Homo sapiens: one gene and its partner. The protein of the gene in region 2 interacts with the protein of the main gene of each other region in a pairwise test. Each region holds a gene or a part of one and is shown on either strand. Other genes may lie near its edges. The genes, in order: SURF4 and LMAN1.

Evidence for each region.
Region 1: the proteins of LMAN1 (region 2) and SURF4 interact in binary tests that used the Homo sapiens proteins (3 or more experiments, as listed by UniProt).

The regions. Positions count from the first base shown.
Region 1 is NC_000009.12:133,370,006-133,385,243, forward strand, and holds the start of SURF4 (surfeit locus protein 4), read right to left. Parts: upstream 6,056-15,238; 5' UTR 5,965-6,055; coding exon 5,917-5,964; intron 5,556-5,916; exon of another isoform or gene 4,794-5,555; intron 3,904-4,793; exon of another isoform or gene 917-3,903; coding exon of another isoform or gene 871-916; intron 1-870. Other genes in the region: serine/threonine kinase-like domain-containing protein STKLD1, read left to right, coding at 6,469-6,555, 9,031-9,117, 13,851-13,895. UniProt on the Homo sapiens protein: Endoplasmic reticulum cargo receptor that mediates the export of lipoproteins by recruiting cargos into COPII vesicles to facilitate their secretion.
Region 2 is NC_000018.10:59,332,221-59,346,810, forward strand, and holds part of LMAN1 (protein ERGIC-53 precursor), read right to left. Parts: intron 13,832-14,590; coding exon 13,699-13,831; intron 6,734-13,698; coding exon 6,540-6,733; intron 6,408-6,539; coding exon 6,337-6,407; intron 1,025-6,336; coding exon 871-1,024; intron 1-870. UniProt on the Homo sapiens protein: Mannose-specific lectin. May recognize sugar residues of glycoproteins, glycolipids, or glycosylphosphatidyl inositol anchors and may be involved in the sorting or recycling of proteins, lipids, or both.

The DNA of each region.
Region 1 (15,238 bases), on a different chromosome or scaffold from region 2:
ACCAGAGGTGTTCTGACTTGCTTCTAAAATGAGAGCTGTGAGCCACTCACTGGCCTGAGATGAGCAAACCAGCCCAGCCATGGGCTGCGGTCTAAGCCTCCCCCAGTTGCAGGACCTGCATTTAACATGCTCATCTACGTGCACAGCCCACGAGATTGAGGCAGTGTTTAAAAGTCTCTTTGAATGAGTCTGCGACTCTTAATTTGAGTGTCTGGGTCAAGAGGATTAAAGAGCAAAAAAGAGAGAGAAGGTGGGACAGGCAATTCACACCTCCTTCCCTGCGCAAACATGGTGACGAAACAGACACAGCTCTTGGCTTTGGGGAAAAATATGCAAAAATCTAGGTACTGCCTTCTGAACTGAGCACACCTACTGCTTGGCTGTCCTGGTTTTCAAAGGCAAGCCTGGTCCACACTGAAGGCTGAAGTCAGGCTGATGCAGTCTCCTCTAAACTGGCCACCATTTAATGAGCATCTGTTTGGACTGAACACTGAAAAAGCCACGTTTAAAGACAAGGCCCAACATTAACCTTATTTCCTACATGCATGTTGGTCACAACTACTTCAACTTGGCCACTGGAACCATGTCATGCCACTCTAGAACACGTCCCAGAGCCAGTGTCCCCTCAGCACAGCAGAGAAGAGCCCTCAACACAGGCAGGACACACAGCACCCCAGGACAGACAAGAGCAGCCGCACTGCAGGCACTAAGGCCATTGCTGGTAGCCAGCACACAGGTGACCTGTGTAAACACGGCGAGCACATAAAACTTGTGACAGTCCCCCTCCCCCCCATTAGAGAACTGCGACAGCAGAGCCAGAGGTGGCTGTTGACCTGGCAGGCTGCAGGAAGAAGATGACAGTTAGCTCACCTCTGTGGCCAAGCTTCTCATTAAGTCTCTCCGAGAACCGCGCCATCAAGCAGGATATGGTTCATAAGCAGTGACAGCATCTGAGGGGCTTAACAGGAAGACTGATATTTCTCTCAAAGGGGTGGTTATTTTAGACGACTGAAGGGGATTTTAGAAACGTAATTAATTATATCCACCCTGAGATGACTTCCTGGGCATCCAGTGATCACTGTCACAGCCACCTGCAGCTCCCACGCCACACAGAAAACTCCACTTTCTCTTCACACTCAGGACAGAAAGAAATTGAGGAAAGCAGCTTGCAAATTCGTGGTGAATGTGAACATCGACGAAAAAGGCAGGTCAGATTTCCTTGATCACCAAGGACTGGGGCTGCCTTGTTCAAAGCCCAACTCAGGTCCCACACATCCTAGAAACAAGCACCTGCGGCCCAGCGGCTTCCCTCACATCAGCCTGTCAGAGCTGGCTCGAGCTCACTGGCTCACTGCAGCTCCAGAACTTCCCCGAGCCCCGCTCCCATGCTGCTCTATAGGTTCACACTGCACCCTGCAGGGCCAGAAAGGATGTCGCCAGCCCAATGTGGGAGATGATGGCCTGGCTTTACTAAAAAACTGTGTGATCAAAATCCCAACTATAGGAAAGACGTAACTGAGAACGACTGGGCCCCATGTTCTGGGAGGAGCCCCGCTAACCACAACCTCCTCTGCTCCTCGCCCGCACTCCCCTGAAGAGTGAGTTTTAACCTCCCGTTAAGATCATCACACAAAGAAAAGTGAGTCAGCTCCTCTTTGCCTTCTCTCCCCACTCCTTCATGATATAGGGCAGGGTATGACAGAGCCTGCCACTGTCACCAGGACTTTGCCACACCAGTCACCAGCATGGTGTTCATCGGGACCCTCACAGTGCCTGTGCCACCTGCAAGTTCAGGGGTCCTCAGGCCTATCCTTGCTTCCCCAGCACTTCAACTAGGGCCGAGGCCAGCTCCTAGGGCCCAGGACTAGCTCTGCCACTCTTGAGGACAGGTTAAAAACACCAAAGGTCACACTGGAGAGGAAGGCCCCATGCAGCTTTTCTGTCACCTTGGTGATGAGCCACCAGGCAGAACCCATTAAGTGCTAATATTGCTGTTTATGGGTATAAACTGCTTAGAAGCTACATTTTACAGAGTGTCTAATAGGCAATGAGGAGCAGCTGCAGGCATGGACATTAGTTTGGATTGCTGAGTTCATTAGTTTCTGGACCCTTCCCATGGCTTCCAAATGCCAAGCTCCTGCATAGAGCACGTCTCAGCAGTTTCTACAGAGCATGGCTCCTGGGAGCAAGAGGACACTGTCCCTGGCTGCCAGAGCAAGCAGCTTGATGCCAGAGGCAGAGAGACAAGAGATGCAACTGTGGGGAGCCTGCCAGCAGAAACTAACCAGACTGCTCGTCCCCGTGGACCAGCCTCTGCAGGCCAGAAGGAAAGATCAGTCAACCAAGCAGTGAGGAACCCAGCCTTTGGGGTAACAGGATGCGGACTCAGTCTCCAGGCCACCACAAGCCAGTGCGGCCAGCCAACCTCCCTCTGCCCATCTGAAGATGGTGACGCTCTGGCCAACCTCCTACAGTCAAGAAGTTCACAAAAGGAATGTCTATCATGGACCCGGCCCAGTGAAAGACTTAATGTCATTGTCATAATACTGGAAGACACTGGGCCTGGGAAACTAAGCTTACTTAGGTCTTGCTTTCAGCAGCCCACACTTTCTGGTCAAATCTTGTCACTTCAGTTTTGCTCTTGTTTTCTGAAGATGTGAAAAAATGGATGTGTCACTTTATCTGATCAGTGACTTCCATGGTAATCCTCTATCGGCTTCAAATTAGGTCATTTTCATGTAAAAGCCTGGTCTGGCAGCTTTAAGTACTATGTGAATAAAGAGAAACAAAGCCCCACCTGGGCTTGGTCAGATTCTGTCCACAAGAAGCCATATTTTGACTTCGAACCCTGTTTACTTGCCTGCATCTGTCTGATTGGGGTTTGGGCGAGTACAAGTAGCTGCCCTCCCAAGCTGCCCACAAAAGGGCATGGAAGCTCCCACAGCCATGCTCTGCCACCACCTAGACGGACTCTTAAGGAGATCATCTGACGGCGGCAGCCTGCGCTGCCTTACAGATATGGTGCCTTACAGATATGGTCCTAACCCACTTGGGTTTTGTATGTGAGCAGCCCCTTCACCCGCTAGTGCTCTTCCCTTGACTTGTGCCAGAAGAGCAACACCAGGGGCTGGGGGCGCTGGGGACCAAGACCCGGCTTTTCTTGGTCTTGGTCACAGGCAAGTCTAGGAGCCTGAGCAGGTTTGGCCTCCCCTCAGTAACCTGGGAGAGGTCGACTCTGTGCCCCCTCAAGAGCCTTTCCAGTTCCAAGCTACTGCTTCTTTCATTTAAAACATAACAGAATACATGATGAAGGCTGGGCGCGGTGGCTCAGGCATGTAATCCCAGAACTTTAGGAGGCCAAGGCGGATCACCTAAGGTCAGGTGTTTGAGACCAGCCTGGACAACATGACAACATGGCAAAATGCTGTCTCTACTAAAAACACAAAAATTAGCGGGGCGTGGTGGCGTGGGCCTGTCATCTCAGCTACTGAGGAGGCTGAGGCAGGAGAATAGCTTGAACCCGGGAGGCGGAGGTTGCAGTGAGATGAGATTGCGCCACTGCACTCCAGCCTGGGTGACAAAGTAAGACTCTGTCTCCAAAAAAAACATAATAACAAAACATGAAGAAAAGGCAGGGCAGGGTGGCTCACGCCTGTAATCCCAGCACTTTGGGAGGCTAAGGCAGGCGGACCACCTGAGGTCGGGAGTTCGAAACCAGCCTGGCCAACATGGGGAAACCCCGTCTCAACTAAAAATACAAAAAAATTAGCTGGGCGTGGTGGCAGGCGCCTGTAATCCCAGCTACTTCGGGCTGAGGCAGGAGAATTGCTTGAATCCGGGAGGCGGGGGTTGCAGTGAGCCGAGATCGCACCATTACACTCCAGCCTGAGCGAAATTCTGTCTCAAAAAAAAAAAAAAAAAAAAAAAAAAGAAGAAGAAAACAGTATGTGAAGACACTGGGAACTTTTTTTTGTCAATAGGGGAGTCTGTCATTTGCTAGTGGGCAGCAGCTTGACTGGAGACATTTGATCTAGATTTGGTTATGAAATTCACTTGCAAATCCAGGTTTTCCAGGACAAAGAGCGAGTGTATGTAGCTCTCATCCTTCCCTCAGCTATGAGGAGCCATCTTCTTAGGGAGCTGCGACTTGGAGAAATATAAATGGGTCACTATAAATTATGTCAATGAAAACTGACAAACCTAAAAGGTCTACCTGGTTCTTGAGAGCTTTTGATATGAATTGTTTTTAAAATTGTGTCTTTAAAGGCTGGGTGCCGTGGCTCACGCCTGTAATCCCAGCACTTTGGGAGGCTGAGGTGGGCAGACCACCTGAGGTCGGGAGTTCGAGACCAGCCTGACCAACATGGAGAAACCCTGTTTCTACTAAAAAAAAAAAAAATACAAAATTGGCTGGGTGTGACGGTGCATGCCTGTAATCCCAGCTACTCGGGAGGCTGAGGCAGGAGAATCGCTTGAACCCAGGAGTTGGAGGTTGTGGTGTGCTGAGATCACACCATTGCACTCCAGCCTGGGCAACAAGGTCAAAACACCATCTCAAAGAAAAAATAAATAAATAAAAATAAATAAACAAATAAAATTGTGTCTTTAAGCACAAAATCAGAATCTTAGGGAAAAAATGCTTCGTCAAGTTGATTACTTTTTCCCTCCAAATTTAAAATATTGGCTCACAGAAAGTGTTGCAATGAGAACCGATGGTGAGGTCACACTAGAAAGAGATCACCCCCCAGGAGGAACGGAAGAGTTCAATAGCTGATCAGAAAACGGTCACTTACTCTTTTCTTTTTTTTTTAAACCACACATATACAAGCCTTCCGATAAGTCTAGGCCTCAGAGTTTGATGACTCACTACCACCTCCAGAAAAATTTAAAAATTTAACCATCACTACTTAAAACTCTAGCAAAGCCACACGAACACATTAAGTAAACCGAGGAAAAAACGGCAAGTGGGCCACACAAGGCTCTCCCTGCGGGGATAAGGCTGTTAATTTGTCGACATAACGGGATTCTTTTAGAAGTAAAAGGCATAAATCTGCGTAACCACCACCACCTTTTGTTTTTGTTTTTTTGTTCTGTCAAGCTTAATCAAGAAAGAGGGAAGGGAGTTGTGTCCCTTCACTTTGTAGGATCGGATCCTGTCCACCCAGTTCCCGAATGCTCTCAACAGTTACCCAACCGCCTGTTTCAAAGGCTTCCCTGTTGCTCAGAATGCCACCTGGACACTTCTGGAAGGAGACTATCAGGGAGATAGGCTTCCCCTCCTCCCAGGCTGTGTACAGGTCCCCACTCAATCCAGCCCAGGGCAGAGTCCAAACGGGGAGGGAGACGCAGACAGGGTCAAAGGGACCCCAAGAGTCCAGCACATCTGGGAAAGAGAAAAGGAAAAGGTGCTGTGGCTTCCTGTAGCTGGGGCGCACGCCAGCGCGCCCCCTTTCCTCTGGGAGGACCCCCGGCCCCCGTTCGTCCCCGAGCTCCCAGCCCGCCTCCGGGAGCCCCAGTGAGAGGAAAAACGTGCGGGGACCCCCCAGCAGCTCCAAACGCCGAGGCGCTCCCCGCGAGCCTCAGACCCGACCCAACGCCAGGACTCGCGCCGCCGGCCCGGGAAGAAACCCCCACAGCCCGCGCCCCGGGCTGGCTGGAGGGTGGGGGCGGCTAGCCAGGCAGGGCGCCGAGGCCCGGGCTCCGGGAGCGGCCCAGCGGGCAGGGGAGACTGGGCCCGGAGGCCGGGTTTGGGGCTGTCCAGCCGGGACAGAGGGCCCGGGCGGGGGGGTCCCCCTGTGGGAACAAGGAGTCAGGGGGCGGCCCGGGCCTGGCGCCCTGCGCTGGGAGGCCGACTCCGGAGCGGCCCGGGCGGCCTGGGTCGGGACCGGGGCCGGGGGAGGAGCCCGCAGGCCGCACCTGGTCGGCGAAGTCCTCGGCCGTGCCCATCAGGTCGTTCTGGCCCATGGCGACGGCGGGAGGCTCGGCTCGGCTCGCTCGCTCGCTCGCTGGCTCTCGCCCGTCGGCGCCCGCACCCGCTGCGGCCTCCACAGGAAGTGCCCGGCGGCCGGCCTCGCTCCGCGTCGGCTGCGGCTCCAGCGGCTGCCACGTAGGCCAAGCCTTAAAGGGGCCGCGCGCCGCCCGGGCCCGCCCCGGTGCGTCTTAAAGGGGCCACGCGCCATCCCCAGCCTCCCGACCCATCCGCTCGAAGCCACGCCCGCCGCGCTCGACGCCACGCCTCTCACGCTGGAGGCCCCGCCCGCCGCGCGCAGGCCCTGCGGTCCCTCCCGGCCCGGCGGAACGCGTCCCTTTTAAGGGGGCGGGGACCTGGGGGTCTGGGGCCAGCGCGCGGGAGGGACGCCTGAGTGCCTCGAGGGCGCCGTTCGGGCGGGGAGGATCCCGCGGGTCCCACTGACCCACGCGGGGTGGGGCCAGGGGTGGACGCTCGCCCGTACGCGGTCGCTACTGATCATGCTTGGGCCAGGGTCCAATCGCAGGCGCCCCACGCAGGGGGAGCGAGGCCCAGGGTCCCCCGGAGAGCCCATGGAGAAGTACCAGGTGCCGAGTGTTCCCTGCGGGGAGGCGGGAGCTCCGTGGGGTAACGGTCGCAACCCTGGAGCTACGGCCGGCGGTTCCGACCGAGGGCGGCGAGGGGCCCGCGCCCTGGCCAGTGTCGGCCTGCAGCTCCTAGGTTGAACCCGGGGGGCCTCCAACGGTGACCTCCTGGGTGCCCTTTGCCACTCAGTTTCCCCCTTTGTGAATTGACTAAGGATTCTCCAGCCCTGGCTGAGTATTTGAGGGCGTGGGGCAGCTCCTCTATCCTTCGTGCCTGGGGTCTGTGCGCTTGGGTCCACCGAGGCAGGACCCCCGGGAACATCCCGAGTACATAATTGGGAGCCCCCAGTCCCCTAAAAACACCCCTGCAGCGTGGGTCTGTGAAAATGTTTGAGACCTAAAAAATTCACAAAACACAAAAGGAAAGCTGCAAAATAAAAGTAAATGTTTAATTAAATGCTTCTATACATGATATATACACTTTATTAAATGTTAGATTCAGCATTTGTGAAAAATGCATTCGCTTGGAAACAGTTTGCGGGTTAGATTTTTGTCACTTTGGAAGAATTGTCTTTGTGTGAGAGGACTATAGGGCGTTGCCAGAGGTGAAGCAGATGAGCTTCTGGTGGCCAGATAATTTTTAAAGTAAAGTTGTTTTTCAGATTAAAAAAAAATAGACGTTTCAGGAATATACCTGCTTTTGGAAAAAAAAATAGACTTGATTCGAGATACGGCTCCATTTTACTGTTTAATTTGCTGCCTAAGCTTGAACGCTCTCACACCAGCTCTGCCCTCAGCCCGCTGTGGCTTAGAACAGCAGTCCCTGGCCGGGCTCGGTGGCTCACGCCTGTAATCCCCAACACTTTGGGAGGCCAAGGCGGGCGGATCACCTGAGATCGGGAGTTCAAGACCAGCCTGACCAACATGGAGAAACTGTCTCTACTAAAAATACAAAATTAGCCAGGTGTGGTGGCGCATGCCTGTAATCACAGCTACTCGGGAGGCTGAGGCTGGAGAATCGCTTGAACCCAGGAGGCAGAGGTTGTGGTGAGCCAAGATAGCGCCATTGGACTCCAGCCTGGGCAACAAGAGCAAAACTCTGTCTCAGAAAGAAAAAAAAAAATAGCAGTCCCCAACCTTTTTGGCACAAGGGACCAGTTTTGTGGAAGACAATTTTTCCACAGATGGAGGCGGGAGGATGGTTTTGGGATGATTCAAGCACATTACACTTAGTGTGCAGTTCATTTCTATTATTATGTTGTAATACATAATGAAATAATTACACAACTCACCATAATGTAGAATCAGTGGGAGCCCTGAGCTTGTTTTCTTGCAACTAGACCATCCTCTCGGGATGATGGGAGACAGTGACGGATCATCAGGCATTTGTTTCTCATAAGGAGCATGCAACCTGGATCCCTCACATGCACTGTTCACAATAGGGTTCACACTCCCATGAGAATCTAATGCTGCTGCTGAGCTGACAGGAGGTGGAGCTTGGGTGGTAATGCGAGCCATGGGGAGCGGCTGTAAATACAGATGAAGCTTTGCTCCACTGCCTGCTGCTCACCTCCTGCTGTGCAGCCTGGTTCCTAACAGGCCACGGACTAGGTTGGGGACCCCTGGCTTAGAATATCCAGTGTCATGAGCAGGCTGCTCACAAGGCTGGATTACAGACTCCTAAGACTTTTATGGGCTCCGAGAGTCCCTAGGCTCAGGCTTCCATCCTCATATCTCCTCCTCTGGGTCCTGCCCTCCCTCCCCCAATCCTCTGATGAATGTCAGCCTCCAGCAATCCCCGGCCCAGCCCCCTGCCCCATAGCACTTGGTCTCTGCACAGAGTTCTGGCTTGGTGGCCATCTCTCCAGATTTGGCTCAAATCACAGGCTCTAAGATCAGACCCCCAGAGTTACCCCAGGCAGTGTCCTGCTTTCTAGTGACATAGCCTCAGGCAAGGACCTAGCTCCTTGTGCCTCAGTTTTCCCCAATGTAAACACAGAGGTAGCAATGGTGTCAACTGCAAAGGGTGGCTGTGAAGTGCTTGGCACCATGCCAGGCACACAATGGCTTCCTGATTGTACCAGTCACAAGATTGGTTACTTTCTTGTTGGAAACCAGTTGGGAGGTGGATGCTGGAAGTTGAGGTCACAGAGGTCTATAGAGAGTGAATAAGCCCTTTTTCTCTGGGAGGTTCTTGCACTTGAGTGCCCAGCTGGTCCTCATTGCAGGTTGGGGGAGGGATACAGGGTTGTAGAAGAGCTCCAGAATCGGCCCCAAATAGGTGAGATCAGAGTTCTGCCATTGAAAGGCTTCTTGCCCTCCTTGGGCCATTTCCTCTATTGCAAGATGGGGTGGAGCCACTTGCTCTGCCAGCCTGACAGGGGAGTTAGCAGGGCCAGAAAAGGAGTTGGAGCTGGGCTTTTGGAAAGGGAAAAGTTGTGTGCATTTCCTGAAAGCTTCTCTCTTCCTTGCTGATAGGTTTTGTACCAGCTGAATCCTGGGGCCTTGGGGGTGAACCTGGTGGTGGAGGAAATGGAAACCAAAGTCAAGCATGTGATAAAGCAGGTAAGAGGCCAAGCCTGTGCATCCCATGCCGGGTGGTTCTGTGACTGTGATTTTCCCCAATACAAGCTCTTCCCATGTTGGAGAAGCTTCCTGATGCGGCAGCTGGATTCCTCGCTGCTGACACTTGCGGAGACTAATCTGGTTGGGGTAGATGTGGGGGTGCGTGAAGCTCTGTCACCTTGATGGGGAAGCAATGCTAATTTTTACTCCAACACCACCACCTCCCACCATTTACGCATCACGTGCTGTATGCCAGGCACTGACTCACTTCATCTCCCGTCAACCCTGTAAAGCAGAAACAATGACCCTGTTTATAGCCAAAGACAGTGAGGCTCAATGCAGCGCCAGACTAGGCAAGGTCACACAATTTCCAAGAGGATTTGAATTCAGGCCACCTCACTGGGGGACACCGTGCTACCCAGTGCTGGGTCACCAGTTTTACCAAAAGGGAGCCAGGCCCAGAGAGGATGGGGACTGGCTCAAGGTCACACAGGGCTAAGGTCACACACCAGGCCCTGAGCCCTTCCACCACACTCCTCACCAGGGCTAGCAGGGCATGGGGAGGTGTAGGCCTGCAGGAAGACAGCCCTTTGTGTGTCCGAGACAGGGAGGTCCAGATCAACAGAGGGACTAGGGTGAGAAAGCTGCTGCAAGAGTCCCTGGCATGCCCTCCTCTCTGTGGTGGTGGCAGGGACCCAGCAGGTTCAGGGCTGGCCATACAGCGGGAGGAGCCTTGTCAGCAGCTGCTACTGGGCCAGGCCTCAGTCCGTACAGCTCCGCAGTCTCACCCTGTATGGCTGGGCCTGGAGTCCTTGCCCCTGCCCTGCTCCCTTGCTGGCTGGCTGTGGGGTTGGCCCCCTTGTCTCACAAGCCACTGGGGCAGTGTGGCTGACTGCCCTCTGAGCAGTTAAGGAGCTTTTTTTTTTGTTTGGAGATGGAGTCTTGCTCTGTCGCCAAGGCTAGAGTGCAGTGGTGTGATCTCAGCTCACTGCAACCTCTGCCTCCTGGGTTCAAGCAATTTTCCTGCCTCAGCCTCCCAAGTAGCTGGGACTACAGGCACACGCTGCCACGCCCGGCTAATTTTTTGTATTTTAGTAGAGACAGGGTTTCACCGTGTTGCCCAGGCTGGTCTCGAACTCCTGGAACTCCTGAGCTCAGGCAGTCCGCCCGCCTCGGCCTCCCAAAGTGCTGGGATTACAGGCATGAGCCACCGCGTCCGGCCTGAGGAGCTTTTAAAAATGTCAGCCATGACTAGGCATGGTGGCTCATCCCTGTAATCGCAGCATTTTGGGAGGCCGAGGCAGGCAGATCCCTTGAGGTCAGAAGTTTGAGAGCAGCCTGGCCAACATGGTGAAACCCCATCTCTACTAAAAATACAAAAATTAGCTGAGCATGGTGGTGGGTGCCTATAGTCCCAGCTACTTGGGAGCTGACGCGGGAGAATTGCTTGAACCCGGGCGGCGGAGGTTGCAGTGAGTCGAGATTGCGCCACTGCACTCCAGCCTGGGTGACACAGCGAGACTCTGTCTAAATTAATTAATTAATTAATTAAATTAAAAATAAAAATATCACCCAATTATTTCTAAATAAAAATTGGGGAAAGAGAGTGTAGGTAGGAGTTTATGGGTTCTTCCAGTCTTTTTTCCTAAGCGTTTGTAAACTTTTTTGGATTCAGGAGAATGGTATCGTTAAAGTTGATAGCATCCTTTTTATATTGCAAACATAGTTTCATGTCATTCCCACAGCCTCCTCCTCTCTTGGCTCTGGCAACTGTGTGGCCTCCCGTCTTGCTTGATGTGCTGTAACTAACCCAAGCCATCCCTATCACATGGGCTGAGCATTGAGCTTGTTCTCAATTTTTCACTTTGTGTAAACAGCTCTGATAAAGATGCTTATGGCATTATGGTTTTGTTTGTTTTTTTGTTTTGTTTTGTTTTGTTTTGTTTAGCATCCATGATTTCCTTAGGAAAAATTCCTAGGAGTGAGATTTCTGGGTCATACGATGTAACTTTTTTTTTTTTTTTTTTTTTTTTGAGATGGAGTTTTGCTCTTGTTGCCCAGGCTGGAGTACAGTGGTGTGATCTCAGCTCACTGTAACCTCTGCCTCCCGGATTCAAGCGATTTTCCTGCCTCAGCCTTCCTGAGTGGCTGGGATTACAGGCACGTGCCACCACATCCAGCTAATTTTGTATTTTTAGTAGACGGGGTTTCTCCATCAACATGGAGAGGATGGTCAGGCTGGTCTCGAACTCCCGACCTCAGATGATCCGCCTGCCTCGGCCTCCCAAAGTGCTGGGATTACAGGCGTGAGCCACCCCACCCAGCCGCTTTTTTTTTTTTTTTTTGAGACGGAGTCTCACTCTTGTTGCCCAGGCTGGAGTACAATGGCGTGATCTCGGCACACTGCAACCCCCTTCTCCCAGGTTCAAGTGATTCTCCTGCCTCAGCCTCCGAAGTAGCTGGGATTACAGGCATGTGCCACCACGCCCGGCTAATTTTGTATTTTTAGTAGAGACAGGGTTTCTCCATATTGGTCAGGCTGGTCTCGAACTCCCAACCTCAGGTGATCCGCCTGCCTCGGCCTCCCTAAGTGCTGGGATTTCAGGCGTGAGCCACTGTGCCCGGCCACAATGTAACATTTTCAAGTCTTTCCATGTTTTGGCCAACTTCACCTCCTCATATGCCCCCTAGGACAGGAGGAAAGGAAGACAGGAAGGCTCACTCAGTGTCTTTGCCCTGGATTCCACGGGACAGTGCCACTGGCATCTCAGGTCTCTCCATAGATCTGGGAACAATTCACTAACTTTACATGATGGTCTGCATTCACCCCATTATAAGAGTACTTCATTCATAAGTCTTTTGAGCAAAATTCTGGGTGAGGATCTGGTATTAGAGCCAGTGGTAGTATATACCTAGGGCCTGTGCCACCAAGCGTGCTGCAGACTCAAAGCTCCGTGCTGCCCTTGCCACCACCCTTCCCTTTCCATGCCCTCCCCACCTCCACCCGGAGAGGGCACAGGAGAGAAGAGCACTGTACATTCCATGCGTGGAGACAACCTTCCCCATGTGGGTAAGGAATGAAGTGGTGAGATTGATGCTTTCCCAACCAGAACAAGATGTTCCTGTTTAAAGACGGTCTGAAAATGGATCCTTTACTGAGTTCTTGGAGCGTATATTATGCTGTCCTAAACTTATCTTTGCAAAAGGAGCAAAGATGTTCTCATTGCTCTAAGTATTTTTAGATCTCTGCCTTAGGAATATCTTCCATTTGTGCCATATGGTGGGGGCAGGAATGGTGGGAGCCTGTCACTCCTGCTAAATAGTGATGATGGTGGTGATGATGGAGGTGGCAATGATGGTGGTAGTGGTGGTGATGGTGGTGGCAGTGATGATGGTGATGATGATGGTGATGATAATGGTGATGGTGGTGATGGTGTGATGATGGTGATGGTGGTCATGGTGATGGTGTGATGATGGTGATGGTGGTCATGGTGATTATGGTCGTGGTGATGATGTGATGATGGTGGTGGTGGTGTGATGGTGATGATAGTAATGGTGATGGTGGTGATGGTGATGATAATAGTGGGGATGGTGACAGTGGTGTTGATGGTGTGATGGTGGTAATGATGATGGTAATGATGGTGATGATGGTGGTGATGATGGTAATGATGGTGATGATAGTGACGATGGTGACAGTGGCATTGATGGTTTGATGGTGGTGATGGTGTGATGATGGTGGTGGTGTGATGGTGATGGTGGTAATGATGGTGATGATGTTGGTGATGGTGGTGATGATGGGGATAATAGTGGTGGTGGTGACAGTGGTGTTGATGGTGTGATGGTGGTGATGGTGTGATGATGATGGTGGTCGTGGTGTGATGGTGATGGTGGTAATGATGGTGATGAGGTTGGTGATGATGGGGATAATAGTGGTGATGGTGACGGTGGTGTTGATGGTGTGATGGTGGTAATGATAGTGGTGGTGGTGGTGATGGTGTGATGATGGTTAAGGTGGTGATGGTAATGATTTTGATGATGGTGATGATTGTGTGATGATGGTGATGATGGTGTGATGGTGATTTTGGTAATGATGGTGGTGATGGTGATGATAGTGATGATGGTGATGGTGGTGGTGTTGGAGTGATGGTGGTAATGGTGGTGGTGTGATGATGTGATGGTGGTAATGGTGGTGGTGTGATGATGGTGGTGATGGTGATGGTGATGATGGTAATGATGGTGATGGCAGTGATGATGGTAATGATGGTAATGATGGTGATGATATATGATGATGATGGTAATGATGGTGATGATAGTGGTGATGGTGGTGGTGATGGAGTGATGGTGGTAATGGTGGTGGTGTGATGGTGATGATGGTGGTGATGGTGATGATGGTGATGATGGCAGTGATGGTGATGGTGGTGATGAAGGTGGTAATGATGATGTTAATGATGGTGATGATAGTGTTGATGGTGGTGGTGATGGAGTGATGGTGGTAATGGTAGTGGTGGTGGTGTGATGATGGTGATGATGGCAGTGATGGTGATGATGGTGATGGTGATGATGGTGACAGTGATGGTGGTGTTGGTTGTGGTTGTGGTAATGATGGTGATGGTTGTGGTGGAGGTGGTGGCTGTGCAGATGATGGTAATGGTCGTTGTGGTGGTGGTGATGGCGGTGATAACGGAGATGATTTGCTACATGTTTATTAAGCTCATGCTCTTGTGCCCTTGCAGGTGGAATGCATGGATGACCATTACGCCAGTCAGGCCCTGGAGGAGGTAACTCTCAGGGTAGTTTTCCCTCTGGAAGAGCTCAATGGAGCATACACAGACTGTGTTCTGTACCTTCTTGTTGAGTGCCTGGATGAAGAGAAGGCTGGAGGGAGGGATAGAGCATCAGCACCAGTTTTGCCTCAGCTGTGAAGCCAGCAGCCCCAGGTCATGAAGGGAGTCCATGCCCCAAACACTCACTGCTAAATGCAGGTGCCGACAACTTAGAACATATGTTCCCAGAGAACATAAAATTTAAATATTGGGCTGGGCACGGTGGCTCACATTTGTAATCCCACCACTTTGGGAGGCCGAGGCGGGTGGATCACTTGAGGTCAGGAGTTCAAGACCAGCCTAGCCAACATGGGGAAACCCTGTCTCAACCAAAAATACAAAAAAATTAGCTGGGCATGGTGGTGGGCACCTGTAATCCCAGCTACTTCGAGAGGTTGAGGCGGGAGAATCACTTGAACCTGGGAGGCGGAGATTGCAATGAGCCGAGATTGCACCATTGCATTCCACCCTGGGTGACAGAGCAAAACTTTGTCTCAAAAATAAATAAATATTGGCCGGGTCCCTAGGTTAATCTACCAATAACTTCTTTAAATATTTTTTCTTCAATATAAAATTATTAATTACAGCAGAAAATTTTAAAAATACAGAATTGGGTTTTCTTTTGTTTTTACCTTTTTTTTTTTTTCTTTAATAGCAATGGGGTCTCACCATTTTGCCCAGGCTAGTCTGAATTTCTGGGCTCAAGCAATCGTCCCACCTCGGCCTCCAAAGTGCTGGGGTACAGGCATGTACCACCACACCCATACCAGAACTGTTTAACAAAACAAATATAAATTACCCTTAATTCTACCATTGAGAGCTGCCCAGCAGTAACATACTCGTTTACAATAATAGCGATAACAGCTGCACTTCGGTTTGATTGGCAAAGCCTCCGAGTAGCCTTTCTTTGTGTTTCTTGAATTTCCCACGAGCTTGAAGGTGTCCCCTCTTATCTCATGGTCACTTGTTTGTCTTCTGGAATTGCTGGCTCTGGAGCTTGGCCAGCAAACATTATTGGGTGTATAGTGTGACCGAAGCACAGTGGTGGGCCCAGGCTACTCGGTAACAAATGGGAAGAAAGAGCATGGGGCCTGCCCAGAGCCGCACGCCGCCGTGGCTTTTCACGTTGCCGATTCCCATCCACAGCCCACTAGGTAGGCCACCTGCTTTCATGCCCAACCTTCCACCCCAAGCAGTTGTCTGTCTGGCTCCATGTCTCTAAGGCAGCCCTATCTGCTCCTGTTTGGGCATGTTTCAAAGCACTTTCCGCCAGGGCAGGGGCACCGGGACCTCTCCGT
Region 2 (14,590 bases):
ATTTGGTCATTGCAACAAAGACAATGTACGAGAAAAATAACCTCAAACAGAACTAAGGGGACAGATAATAATGCTTTGGATGAGAGGTCATGATCAATAAGAAAACTATTAAGCCATCTTTGAAAAAAATGTATATTCAAGGCATATATACAGGAATATAGTTAAGAGAGTTATCAAAAAATATAAAGGAGACAAGATTAGAAGCTGAAGACCTAAGTTTTCTCCCTTTCCTACTTACTAGCTACTGACCTTGGGAGAGTCAGTTTAATGTAACATTATTATTAATCTATTAGTATATTTTCTAAAGGTCATCAAACGTTTTAAAAAGCTTTTAAAAAGATAAAACGCGATATAAAATATAAGGGATTGGGATTTCTGCTTCTGGTAAAGCAGACTAGGAAATATGGGCCAACCATATCCCAAATATGTCTTATAGAAGACAACCAGCAGAGTCAAAAACATATCTAATCCAATCCAAGCACACGAAACCTGGGTGAAGGTAAATGAAGCTAACAAGATAGCAAGAAATTACCAGATTAGAACCTTGACGGAAAAATAGGCCAAAGAAATACACTTTAAGCAATCCATGGGTCAGAGAAGACATTAACATGGAAATCAGAAAATATTTTCACGAAATGATAATATAAATATTACATATTAAAAAACCATGACTGCTATGGGAACTGTTCTTCCACCTTCAATAACTAGAAAACCAGGACACATGGAGATCTGCAATAAATGGGACAATTCTACCTTAAACATTAAAAATAAGCATTAGCATTAACTAAAGGGTTAAAATACTTGCAGTAGAGTATGAGTTCTTCCTTTCCTAAAGATTATAATTATAAAAGGAAAAGGAAACAAAGTTACCATATTTCGCTGCACTAAGTTATCTATGTCCCTCTTTACTATGTGCAGGTGCTCTTTGATGTCAATGAAGTGCTGTGTTGTCTCATAGACGCCTCCAGCAGAGCCAGGGTGCTGCATTCCACTGACCAGTCTGACGGTTTCACTCATGGAATTTCTGAAACAGAAAGTCTCTTGATACAATAAAATCACTATAAAGTTTTTTTTTTTCAGTCACAGATCTCCAATACTTTTACTTTTCAAGTCTAATATATTACATCATTTAAAAAAAAAAACAGGTAAAGTATCTTTAAAAATCGAGTTGTGTTCAAAATTGGAAAATAATTTATAAAACGACATTATGCCTTTATATTTTACTAAAGGTCATCTAAAAATACCATGTAGAAAATACTACTAGGTAATCTGTGTTAAAACCAATAGTATAAGTGGATATTGAATATAATGGATGATATTTTTAATGAAGTTATAATAAATCTTTCTAGGTGTTCAGCTGTACAGTAAAGGACTAGTGCCAAACGCAATCATTTCCTATAGGCACACTCACACACACACAGACTTGTCCGCTTTGTAGCTGCACATATAGATGATTTCACTCATACAGCATATAGTAGGAGGCTAATGGCTTTGTGACCCTGAGGACAGGGGTCACAATTCTGATTTCCTACGAGTGCATTCAACAGTTATGGTTCAATTTGGAGGAATAAATAAATAAGTTATTTCACTGGAGTCAAATGTAGTTTAAAAAGTAAGAGCTTTACCAAAAGAAAAAAAAAAAAGAGACTCAAATTACTTAAAAATAACACTATATGTCAGACAGAATGTTAAGTATAACATTTAAAAAATTATGTTTGAGTTACATGAGCAGTGAAGACTTAAAAGTAGTTACAAAATATCTCAAGTGCTTTTGAATCAATGTCACGTGTTGATTAAAATTTCTTTCAATGGCACATATGCTCAAGAAAATTCCTGTGGGGCTAAGCTTTTCCACTTAAACTCAAATTAAGCATAACATTTTAATATAACTAAAATAATACCAAGACCAAAACCTCACAGAGTATGTAACGTTGTCACATATTTGTATTTAAGAAATTCTGCTTCCCAGAAGCATGAACTTGCTTAGGTATAAATGTCTTTTTAATATACCAAAGATTGAGTCACTTAATTTGCTCCTACTCAGTCATTCATTCATTTGCCTGTTCATTCTGCTAACATTTATTTCATAAGTGCTGTGAGCCAGGGAATATTAGGGATATAAACTTTGCAAGAAGAATGAAATATCTGCCCTGTGGAGATGAATTGTCTAGCAGGAAAGCAACGTGACAGAAGCACGACTAGAGCTCTACAAAGAAAGATGCATTTAGCTGAGTGTCAAAAAATGAAGAGGAGCCTATGGGGATAGAATTGTGGTTGAAGGAGGTCATAGTTGGTTTAGGAAACAGGTCAAGTGAAAAGAGGGCTGGACAGAACGCTTGAAAAGAATACCTTTTAAGGGACGATGGAAGGAGAGCAAGTGAAGATAACTAAATGGAAGCAGAGGCCAAAGAATACCAGGAGTGAATGGTGTATCAGAAATCTTAAAAGGGAAGTTTTGAGATGGAGAAGTGGGAAGAGGCATCAACTGCTACAGAAAAGCTACATGCTTTCTAAGATCTCTTTCTGCTAAAAAAAATTTCTTTGATTCCTTAAGAATATAAAAATCCACAAAGAAACAAACTACCCTTTCCATTAAAGGCAAATATTTTCTATCTCTTTACATTTTTTTTTTGAAGCTAAATCCTAAAGAAAAAGTTCCAGAGCACTAGTTCAGAAACTTGAGCTCAGTTTTTATATTAACTTACTGTATGCATGACATTTATTCTCAGTAAGTGGGAGTTTGCAAGGATTGTTAACTCCTCTAAGAAAGGGATTCTATGGATAATACAACTGGACAGCTAGGACGTCCTGACAACTAGTTACATCTTTAGATGTCCTAGTACTACTGTTAAGTAAAACATGCAAAGCACAAAAGAGTATCTAGAATATGCTACCCGTCACATAAGAAAGAAAGGGACTTCAGAAAATATGGGCTGGGTGCAGTGGCTAACACCTGTAATCCCAGCACATTAGGAGGCCAAGGCGCGTGGATCACCTGAGGTCAGGAGTTCGAGACCAGCCTGGCCAACATGGAGAAACCCCATCTCTACTAAAAATACAAAAGTAGCCAGGCATGGTGTCAGGTGCCTGTAATCCCAGCTAGGCGGGAGGCTGAGGCAGAAGAATCGCATGAACCCAGGAGGCAGAGGTTGCGGTGAGCCAAGATTGCACCAGTGTACTCCAGCCTAGGCAACAAGAGCAAAACTCCATCTCAAAAGAAAAAAAAAAAAAGAAAGAAAAGAAAAAGAAAATACGTATATGCAGAAGAAATACAGGAAGAACAAACCGGAAGCTAACAGAATTGGTTACCAAGAGGGAATGGGTGGGAAACAGCTGGAAAGAAGGGGAGGATGGGAAAGTGGTAGCAAGGATGAAGAAGCGATATACACATGCTCTGCCCCTTAGAACCATAGTATTCATATACCCAAAATACAAACAATTTAAATCAACCAGGATATAGGAGGAATATAAACATTAACAAAGAATCTAGCTGGATCCTAAATGAGTAATATCAGCCATAATGAAAAGAGTAGGGAAAAAGAGAACTACACTAAGAAACTATCTGGAAAAGAGTATCTGGGCTGGATACTGTAAAGCTAGAGATAAAAGGAACTTTACATAAACTTGTCAGTAAATGTCTTTCTCACAGGGATACGAGCTAACAATTTGAAACCACTTTGTGTGTACTTATATGCATACTCAAGTGAAACCAATAAGTAAATATGTTATAGATACAGATAATAAGAACCAGGTTTTTCCCTGTTGGAGGAAGAATTTTCAAATAAGACAAGGGGGAAAGTTAAAAATTAACTCTGTAGTGTTCAGTCCAGCCAGAATCCAAAATATCTGCATAATCTCATGGTTTAACACAAGAGTAGGTTGACAGACACGGAACTACAGACTCATGTACATGCATGGGTTGGTATACATATGTATATTCCCTAGCTCTGTCCAGTAAGAGGCCTAGAGGTAACGGCACCGCGGTAGTAATGAGCATACCTAGTGCCCAAAGGTTGGTTTTCAAATACCTTTCTCAAGAAAAAGGAACCAGGGCTCACTGAGGGCAGAGAAAATACAAGATGACCCTAGAAGATAGAGCAGTACCATAAATTTTTAAAATGCTCAAAAAAAGATGAGGGCTTGTTGAGAGAACAAAGATGCCAACATGAAGGAGCTCAGAATGACCATACCTGAAACAATTTGAGCAGCAAAATAAATAAGGAGAGTGTTGGACTGTAACCTATGGAATAAGTATCCATGAGTCTGAACTGATCTAAATAAATAACTAAATAAATAAATGGGAGAGAAAAGATAGTTGGTCCTGACAGCAGAATTCCAATGAACAAATATGGAGGGAATTATTTCGAAATATAAACATCGGGGCCAGGCGTGGTGGCTCACGCCTGTAATCCCAACACTATGGGAGGCAGAGGCAGGAGGACTGCTTGAGCCCAGGAGTTTGAGATCAGCCTGGGCAACATGGCAAAATCCCAACTCCAAAAAAAATAGAAAAATTAGCTGGGTGTGGTGGCATGTACCTGTAGTCCCAGCTACTCAGGAGGCTGAGATGGGAGGATCATTTGAGCCCAGGAGGTTGAGGCTGCAGAGAGCTGTGATTGCACTACTGCACTCCAGCCTGGGCAACAGAGCTAGACCCTGTCTCAAAAAAATAAATAAATAAATACATAAAAATAAAAATTAAAAAAAAATCAGCATTTGGCAAAAACCACTTTCTTGTTACAGGCAAGAAACATCAATGGATGCTAAAATGAATGAGCAGAAGGTTGAAATGGATACTTACATAGTCTCAAAGTACCTTCTCCAAAATACTAACCACAAAGGGAAATACAGTAACTTTAAAGTAGAGATAGCAATAGGAAACCACCATAACCGAGTGATCACAGCCAACATCATCAGTAATATCTTACCAATCTTATATAATAATATATATAATTATATTATATAACATATTATAATATATAATATCTTCTTATCAAAATGTGGAACTTCCATCCAACCAAACCCAAATCAAAAGGTATTAACTGATTAATGCTCTTGGAAAATGTCAAGGTCATGAAAGACAAGGGAAGATGAACTACTGCAGACTGCAGAAGGCTAAAGAGAAAAAATAACTAAATGTAATGTGCGATTGTGGATGGGATCCTGGAATAGAATAGGCCTTGGTGGAGAAACTGATAAATTTTGAATAGGTCATTAATTTAGTTGATTGAATTGTATCAATGTTAATTTCCTGGTTCTGACAATTAAACCATGGTTATATAAATTAGAGAAAGATGGGTGAAGAATGTATAGAAACTTCCCATACTATTTCTGTAGCTTCTGAGGTCTAAAATTAGATCGAAATAAAAAGATTTTTAAAAAGGTTGCGTTACATGATCCAGTCTATTTCTAAAAGGATTCTATTCATTTAACTAAACTATTTGAAGAGCTAAACTATTCATCTAGCATCATAAATATTTCAATCATGAGTTCAGATTATGAAGATTTTTTAAAATGCAAAGAGAAAAATTGAAGAAATATAAATTTGCAGTTATAAGTTAAGTGCCTTTAATCTCTAGACATCAGGTATAATCACCTTCTGTTTGATCTAACCTTGTTTAATTCTCCAGTCCTAAAGAACTCACCTTGACATTCTTGTTTGTCAAGGGTTCTATCGGTTGGGACAGTGCTCTGAAATGTTAGGTTATGGAAACATGACACTATGGTTTGTTATCTCTGCTCCAGGCATTGAAAGCTATTAATTATCTGCATAAGTCAATCATTCTCATTAGAAATTTATTGTTCAACATTCTAAGGACACAATTATCTCCTCTCTGCTCCAACTCTGTCCAGTCTCTCTGAGAGTAAAAGATGGGAATGAAAAAGAGGTAGTCACACATATTACGTTCAAAATGGTTTCATTCCATCAAAAAGAATTTCCTGCATCAGGTCTGCTTGTATTATAGTCTTACAATGCTACACATATTTATTCCTCTAGTACTTTTCATAAAAGTGTTATATATTATTTCATATTCTTTTTATATTTTATAAATATAAGAACACACCTGGCTCTGTCAAGTAACTGACAAATCTCTTTAAAAGATGCCAAAACATTTTTTCTTTTCCAGCTCTAAACAATTAAAAACTTTAGACATGTTTGCAGTTTTTGAATATTAAAAGTTGCTGTATTTATGGTCCCCTATTTGTAAAATGAATCTAGAACGGGATTCTTACCCTCATGCAGAAATCTTGCAATACAGTGCTTGCACACCTGAAGTCACAAATTTAGGATAAAAAAAATCACATAACACACAAACGCTACTTTTCCATACTTACTTCATTTCATTTACTTGTCTCAGAATCTCATGCTGAGTTTTCACAACAGTATCCAGTTCTTGTTGAGTAATCTGGAGGAAGAAACAATGACGAGCAAGCTGAATAATCCACATTCTATGAGCACATAGTACAGTTGCCCTTCTTCTTTACTTCCCTTCCAGCAAAGGGTAAATGGGGCACATCTGCATATTCTGCAAGCCCACCTGCCCATGCTGCCCAGGCATTCCTGCTCCTCTTTTAGAGATTTCCTCTGTTAAGGAAGAGACATATCTTCTCTGTTCATCAAGAATCATATCTAACTGCCGGTTCAGCTGCTTGATTTCAAGATGAATACGATTCTGTCCTTCAAAGACTTGTCTTAGCTCTCGATCTCCTACACTCTCAAATATTTCCTCCGCTGAAAAGGAAATAAATAAAAATGATCAGAGTCACCTACACATATGTAGTTTTTGAAATAACGTAAGTGACCAAAGTGCCAACATTCAGCAAAATTAGGACATCACCATCACAGTGGTACAATCTCCCAAACAGAAAATATGCAAATAATTAATTCAATAATGATTAAATTATTTGTTTTCTGCCATTTCAGGTGATTGAACACTTATTATAAACTGGGTTTAAATTTTTTTATTTAAAAACAATTTTTCTTGGATAATCTCAGGAGGGATCAAAATGGCTAACCAGATGCAAGTAGTATGTACCTCCTCCACGGAGAAAAACCAGAGTAGTAAGTAGATACTTGCATTTCAAATAGATTGCCTAGGAGAGAATGCTAGGATTCATCAGAGAAGAAATGGGAAGCACCAAAATAAGGAGAGAGTTTGAGGCAGCTTGCCCAGCCAGGAGCTGACTGAGCACCAGAAGGGCTCCTAGATGATGGGAAACAGTAAGAGAGAAAACCCCAGGGCCCTGCAGTCCAAAATGGGCTTTTATGATCCTGGCTACAGGAGAAACCTCTGACCCACTAGGGCTGTGGGCTGGACATATGGAACTGCCTAAATATTGCACAGAGATGTTGCTCCATAAAGGGAAACCACATGGAATCCCACAGGCATTTGAGCCTACAACAGCTCCAGTTGGGCACCACTGTTGATAGCCTAGATACTGGGGATCTACAGACATGGCTGCAGTCGCTGCAATGTTCCAAGGAGAGAAGGGGGGACACTGGTCACTCCCATGCACCCCTAGGAAGGTCCCTCCTGCCTTGCTGAAGGGTGCTGCTGATACTGAGACATGAGTAGACAGCACTCCCCACAGCTTCTTGCCCATGCTGCTTGCCTGGAAGGGACCCTACCCTCTCTGGTCCCAGACCCAAGGTGAAACACTGAGAGTTTAATGGAGGGTTGTGCCCCACCCTCAGGCTATGTTTGGGCTGACAAGGCTGTAGCTACCACCTGGCCAAGGAGAGACAGGAAACAGGCTCTCCTATGCATATCTAGGACAATACCCACTGCCCTGCAATGGGCTCTTGTGAAACTGAGATGTGAGCAGACTGCACTCCTTACAGCTTCTTGCTCATGACACCTGACTAGGAAGGGCCCTGCTCTCCCTGGTCCCAGGCACAAGGCACAATTTTGAGAGTTTCATGCTGGGCTGTGCCCTATCCTTAGTCCGAGTTCAAGTTCATATGGCTGCAGTTGTTGTCTGGCTAAGGAGAATAACTAAGAAAATAATTGATGAGAGCTTCCCAAGTCTAGCAAAAGAGTTAGATGTCCAGATACAGGAGGCCCAGCAATCCCCAGAAAAATATATTGCAAAAAGGGTTTCACTACAGCATATTGTATTCAGAATGTCTAAAGTCAATGTGAAATAATTTTAAAATTAGCAAGAGAGAAGTATTTAGTCACTTATAATGGAAATTCCATCAGATTAACAGCAGACTTTTCAGCAGAAGCTTTACAGGCCAGAAAGGAATGGGCATTCTCAAAGTGCTAATAAAAGAAAAAAAAAAACTGTCAGCCAAGAATTTTATATCCTGCTAGAATCAGCTTCACAAATGAAGAAGAAATAAAGCCTTTCCCAGACAAGCAAATGCTGGGGAAATCCGTCATTACCAGACCAGCATGACAGGAAATGCTCAAAGCGGTCTTAAACATGGAAACAAAAGGGCAATATTCACCATGATAAAAACAGAAATATAAAATAAAAGTTCTTATAAAACAATCACAGAGGGGAGGAAGATGTAAGAATCAAATGGCAACATGACAGAATTTCATCAAATGACAAAGACAAAGATGGAAAAAAGAAAGGAACAAAGAATTTATAAGACAACTTGAAAATAATGAACAATATGACAAGAACAAAGCCTCATATATCAATATTAACCTTGAATGCAGATGGATTAAATGTTCCACTAAAAGATACAGACTGGCAGAATGGATTAAAATACATGGCACAACTATATACTGCCTACAAGAAACTTAGGTTATTCATAAAGACACACATAGACTGAAAGTAAAGAGGTGGAAAATAATAGTCCAAGCAAATGGAAACCAAAAGTGAGAGGAGTAGCTGTACTTATATGAGATAAAACAGACTTAAAAAAGAAAAGACAAAGAAGGTTATTATATAATGATAAAGGGATCAATTCACCAAGAGGATATAACAATCCTAATTTATATGCACCCAACATTAGAGCATCAAAATTCAGAAAACAATTATTACGAGACCTAAAGAAAGAGAAAAACAGTAATACAATAATAGTGGGAGAATTTAACACCACACACACAACACTAGATAGATCGAGACAGAAAAATAACAAAGAAACATTGGGCTTAAATTGGACTTTAGACCAAATGGACTTAGACATTTACAGAACTTTCTACAATAACTATGGAATATACATTCTTTTCACCAGCACATAGAAGACTCTCCGACACAGGACTACATATTAGGCCACAAAATAAGTCTTAGCAAATTTTTGAAAATCAGAATCATATCAAGTGTCTTAGACCACAATGGAATGAATCTAGAAATCAATACTAAGAGGAACTTAAGAAACTAAACAAACACATGGAAATTAAACAGCATGCTCCTGAACATTCACTTTGTCAATGAAGAAATTAAGACACAAATGTAAAAATTTCTTGAAATGAATGAAAATGGAAACACCAAACCAAAACTGAAAAAAGCAGTGTGAAGAGGGCAGTTTACAGCATTAAATGCCACATCAGAAAGTGGAAAGATCGCAAACAATCTAACATTATTCCTCTGCAAACTAGAAAAACAAGAACAAACCAAACCCAAAGTTAGCAAAGAAAAGAAATAACAAACATAAGAGCAAAGCTAAATGAAATAGAGACCAAAAAAATTAATAAAGGATCAACAAAACAAAAAGTTGCTTCCTTGAAAAGATAAACAAAATTGATAAACCACTAGCTAGACTAGGCAAGAAAAGAAGAGAGACGATCCAAATAAACACAATCAGAAAAGAAGGAGACATTACAACAGATTCCACAAATACACAAAAGATCGTCAGAAACTATTTGAACACCTATATGCTCACAAACTAGAAAACCTAGAGGAAATGGATAAGTTCCTGGAAACACACAACTTTCTGAGACTGAAACAGGAAGAAACAGAACTCCTGAACAGATCAATAATGAGTAGCAAGACTGAATCAGTAGTAAAAAAAAAAATCTCTTAACAACAGCCGGGACTAGATGGACTTATAGCTGAATTCTATCAAACATATCAAGAAGAACCAATTCTCCTGAAATTATTCCAAAACACTGAGGAGAGAATTCCCCCTAACTCATCCTATGAGGGCGGTATCACCCTGATACCAAAACCAGACAAGGACACAAAAAAATAGAAAACTACAGACCCATATCCCTGATGAACAAAGATGCAAAAATCCTCTACAGAATACCAGCAAAATGAATCCTACAGCACATCAAAAAGATAATACAGCACGATCAAGGTGGGATTTATCCCAGGGATGCAAGGAGGGTTCAACATATAAAAATCCATATATATGATACACCACATAAACAGAATTAAGAACAAAACACATGATCATTTCAACAGACTCAGAAAGGACATTCAATAAAATTCATCATCCCTTCATGATAAAAATCCTCAATGAACACACCTCAACATTAGGCCACATATGACAAACCCACAGCCAACCTCACACTTAACAGGGAAAAGTTGAAAACATTCCCTTTAAGAACTGGAACAAGACAAGGATGCCACTTTTATCACTCTTACGTGTAATAACATAATACTAGAAGTCTTCACCAGAGCAATCAGGCAAGAGAAAAAAATAAAAGGCATCCAAACTGGAAATGAGTAAGTAACATTATCCCTGTTTGCTAATGATATGATCTTATATCTCAAAAATCCTAATGACTCCACCAAAAAACTCTTAGATTTGATAAATGAATTCAGTAATGTTTCAAGATAAAAAATTAATGTACAGAAATCGGTAGCATTTTCATATACTGATAATGATCTAGCAGACCAAATCTAGAAGGCAATTCCATTTACAACAGCTAAAAAAAAAAAAAAACACCTAGAAATATATTTAACCAAGAAGGGGAAAGCTCTCCATAAGGAGAACTTCAAAACAACGATGAGAGAAATGGTAGATGACACAAACAAATGGAAAAGTATCCCATGCTCATGAATTGGAAGAATCAATATTGTTAAAATGACCATACTGCCCAAAACTATCTACTAGTTCTAGACACTCCCAATCAAATTACCAATGTCATTTTTCACAGAATTAGAAAAAAAAAATCCTAAAACTCATATGGAAAAAAAAGGGAGCCCAAATAGCCAAAGCAATGCTAAGCAAAAGGAATAAATCTGGAGGCATCACATTACCTGACTTCAAATTATACTACAAGGCTAAAGTAACCAAACCAGCATAATACTGGTATAAAAACAGACACATAAGTCAGTGGAACAGAACAGAGGACCAGGAAATAAACCCACATACCTACAATCAACTGATCCTCAACAAAGTCAACAAAAATAAACACTGGGGAAAGGACATCCTATTCAATAAACGGTGCAGAAAAAATTGAATAGCTATATATAGAAGAATGCAAGTGGACCCATACTTCTCACCATATGCAAAAATTAACTCAAGATGGATTAAAGACCTAAACATAACACATGAAACCATACAAATCCTAAAAGAAAACTGAGGAAAGACTCTTCTGCATATTGGCCTAGGTAAAGAACTTAGACCAAGTCCTCAAAGGCAAACACAAGAAAAACAAAAATAGACAAATGGGACTTAAACTAAAAAGCTTCTACACAGCAAAAGAAACAATCAACACAATAATCTAACCTACAGAATGGGAAAAAATATTTGCAAACTATGCATCCAACGAAGGGCTAATATCCAGAATCTACAAGGAACTCAAACAACTCAAGAGAAAAACAAAAAGCCCATTAAAAAACTGGGCAAAGAGCATGAACAGACATTTTTCAAAAGAAGACACGCAAGTGGCCAACAAATAAATGAAGAAATGCTCAACATCACTAATCATCAAAAAAATCCAAATTAAAACCACAATGAGATACTATCTTACACAAGTCACAATGGCCATTATTAAAAAGTCAAAAGACAACAGATGTTGTCAAGATGTGGAGAAGAGGGAATGCTTATATGCTGTTGGTGGGAATGTAAATTAGTACAACCTTCATGGAAAACAGTATGGAGAATTCTCAAAGAACTAAAATTAGAATTACCGTTTGATCCAGCAATCCCACTACTGGGTGTTTACCCAAAGGGAAAGAAATCATTATATCAAAAAGATACTTGCACTTATACGTTTATTGCAGCCCTATTTACAATAGCAAAGATATGGAATCAACCTAAATGCCCATCAACAGAGAACTTGATAAAGAAAATGTGGCGTGTGTGTGTGTATATATGTATGTATATACTATAGACTACTACTCAGCCATAAAATAAGAATGAAATTATGTCTTTTGCAGCAACATGGATGGAACTGGAAGTGATTATCCCAAGTGAAATGACTTAGAAAGTCAAATACCATACATTCTCACTTATAAGTAAAAGCTAAACAATGGGTACACATGGACAAATGGAGTGGAATAACGGACACTGGAGACTACAAAAGGTGGGAGGGGAATGAAGGTTGAAAATTACCCACTGAGTACCAGGTTCATTAGGGTGAGAGTACACTAAAACCCCAGACTTCACCACTATATGACACAAGCATATAAGAAATCTGCACTTGTACTCTTCCTAAATACATAAAAAGTTAAATAAAATTAAAATGGAAAAATATTTCTCTTTCATTACACTGTGTGATTCTACTTATAAGAATAGGCAGAACTAATCTACAGTGATAACAATAAGAATAGTGATGGGCTCTGTGGAGAAGGTTGTTGACTTTAAGGAGGCATGAGGGAACTTTCTGGGATGATAAAAATGTTCCGTGTACTGATCGGGGTGATGGTTAAATGGGTATACACATTTGTCAAAATTTACTAAACAATACTTTTCAAACACTAAAGTCAGCTTCAGGATATACTCACAAATTTTATGTGATGATGTTTAAAACAAATTCAAAATAAGAATGACCTTTATGTTTCATTTTTAAATTCATTAAGTCTGACTCATACTGTTGATCATTAAGAGAACTGCATACTACATAGAGTTCAAATGCTAGCCACAGCCTTTATTAAGTACACCTTTGATCACTTATGCTGACTGGGAACAATTCAGATAAAAAGCTAGCAGATAATATAAATTCCCTCAATTTGGCCTTAAAATGTTTTATTTTTGACATTAGCACACTCACGTTCTTAATAACATTGGGTTAGACTAGTATTTTATAATTTTCAAGTATACAGTCCAGGATTCTATCGAGTAGTATGGGGAGGAGAAGCAGATATGTCACATTACTTTCACAACAGTTTTGATAGATTTTAAGGATTATCTCCACACTATAAGGTAATTATGTGTCACTAAAACCAAAAATATACACTTTTGATGATTTCAGTCAAAAAATATTTACTGAACCTGAACTACTAGGTTAGCATTGTTTTGGATTTATTTTTAGGCTTAGTGGTCACAGCAATGAATATTAACAAAATCCCTGTCCTCATGGAGCTTTCACTCTAGCGGTCCCATTCCTCCAAATAACCATGGTACTCTTTATTTCATACATGACTAAGCCACATTCTCACTGGTAAAAATGCCAATCTCTTGACTCTTAAAGACTAAAGATTTGCTCCTAAATTGTTTCCAGAAATCACTTGGAATGTGCCTGTTCAGAGAGCAGGGATGAGCTAGGCAACACAGAGACTCAAGCGTCCATGATCAACAGCCTCAAGCCCTGCTGCGGCACCCATGTCAGCTTTGCTACAACTCACCAGGCTGCCCTTGGAGGTCGGGGTGGCCCTTCTGGAATTCCTCTTTTTTTTTATCCAATTCTTGTTGAAAGTGCTCAAATTCCTCCTGATACTTTTCTTTTTCCTTTTCCGAAATTTCTTTATCTGGTGTGGGCTTTTTTTTGGAGTTTTGGAATAGATCATTAAAAAGATAAGAAAATCATTAAGATATCTCTATACATGTTATTTTTCTCATTTTAACTCTTCTACCACTAGCGGAAAGGTTAACATAAAAATGTATTCCTTCTTTACTTAAACGATAGCAAATTACTCTTTTTTTTTTTTTTTTTTTTTTTTTTTAGAGACAAGAGTCGCGCTCTGTCACCCAGGCTGGAGTGCAGTAGCGTGATCTCGGCTCACTGCAACCTCTGCCTCCCAGGTTCAAGCAATTCTCCTGCCTCAGCCTCCCGAGTAGCTGGGACAACAGGCACCTGCTGCCATGCCCAGCTAATTTTTTTTGTATTTTTTAGTAGAGATGGAGTTTCACTGTGTTGTCCAGGCTGGTTTTGAACCCTTTAGCTCAGGCAATGCACCCGCCTCGGCCTCCCAAAGTGCTAGGATTACAGGCGTGAACCACCGCGCCTGGCCCTTTTTTCTTTTTTGAGATGGACTCTTACTTTGTTGCCCAGGCTGAAGTGCAGTGTCTTGATCTCAGCTTACTGCAACCTGTCCCTCCCAGGTTCAAGCGATTCTCCAGCCTCAGCCTCCTGAGTAGCTGGAACTATAGGTGTGCACCACCACACCCAGCTATTTTTTGTATTTTTGTAGAGATGGGGTTTTGCCATGTTGGTCAGGCTGGTCTCAAACTCCTGACCTCAGGTGATCTGCCCACCTTGGCCTCCCAAAGTGCTAGGATTACAGGCATGAGCCACCA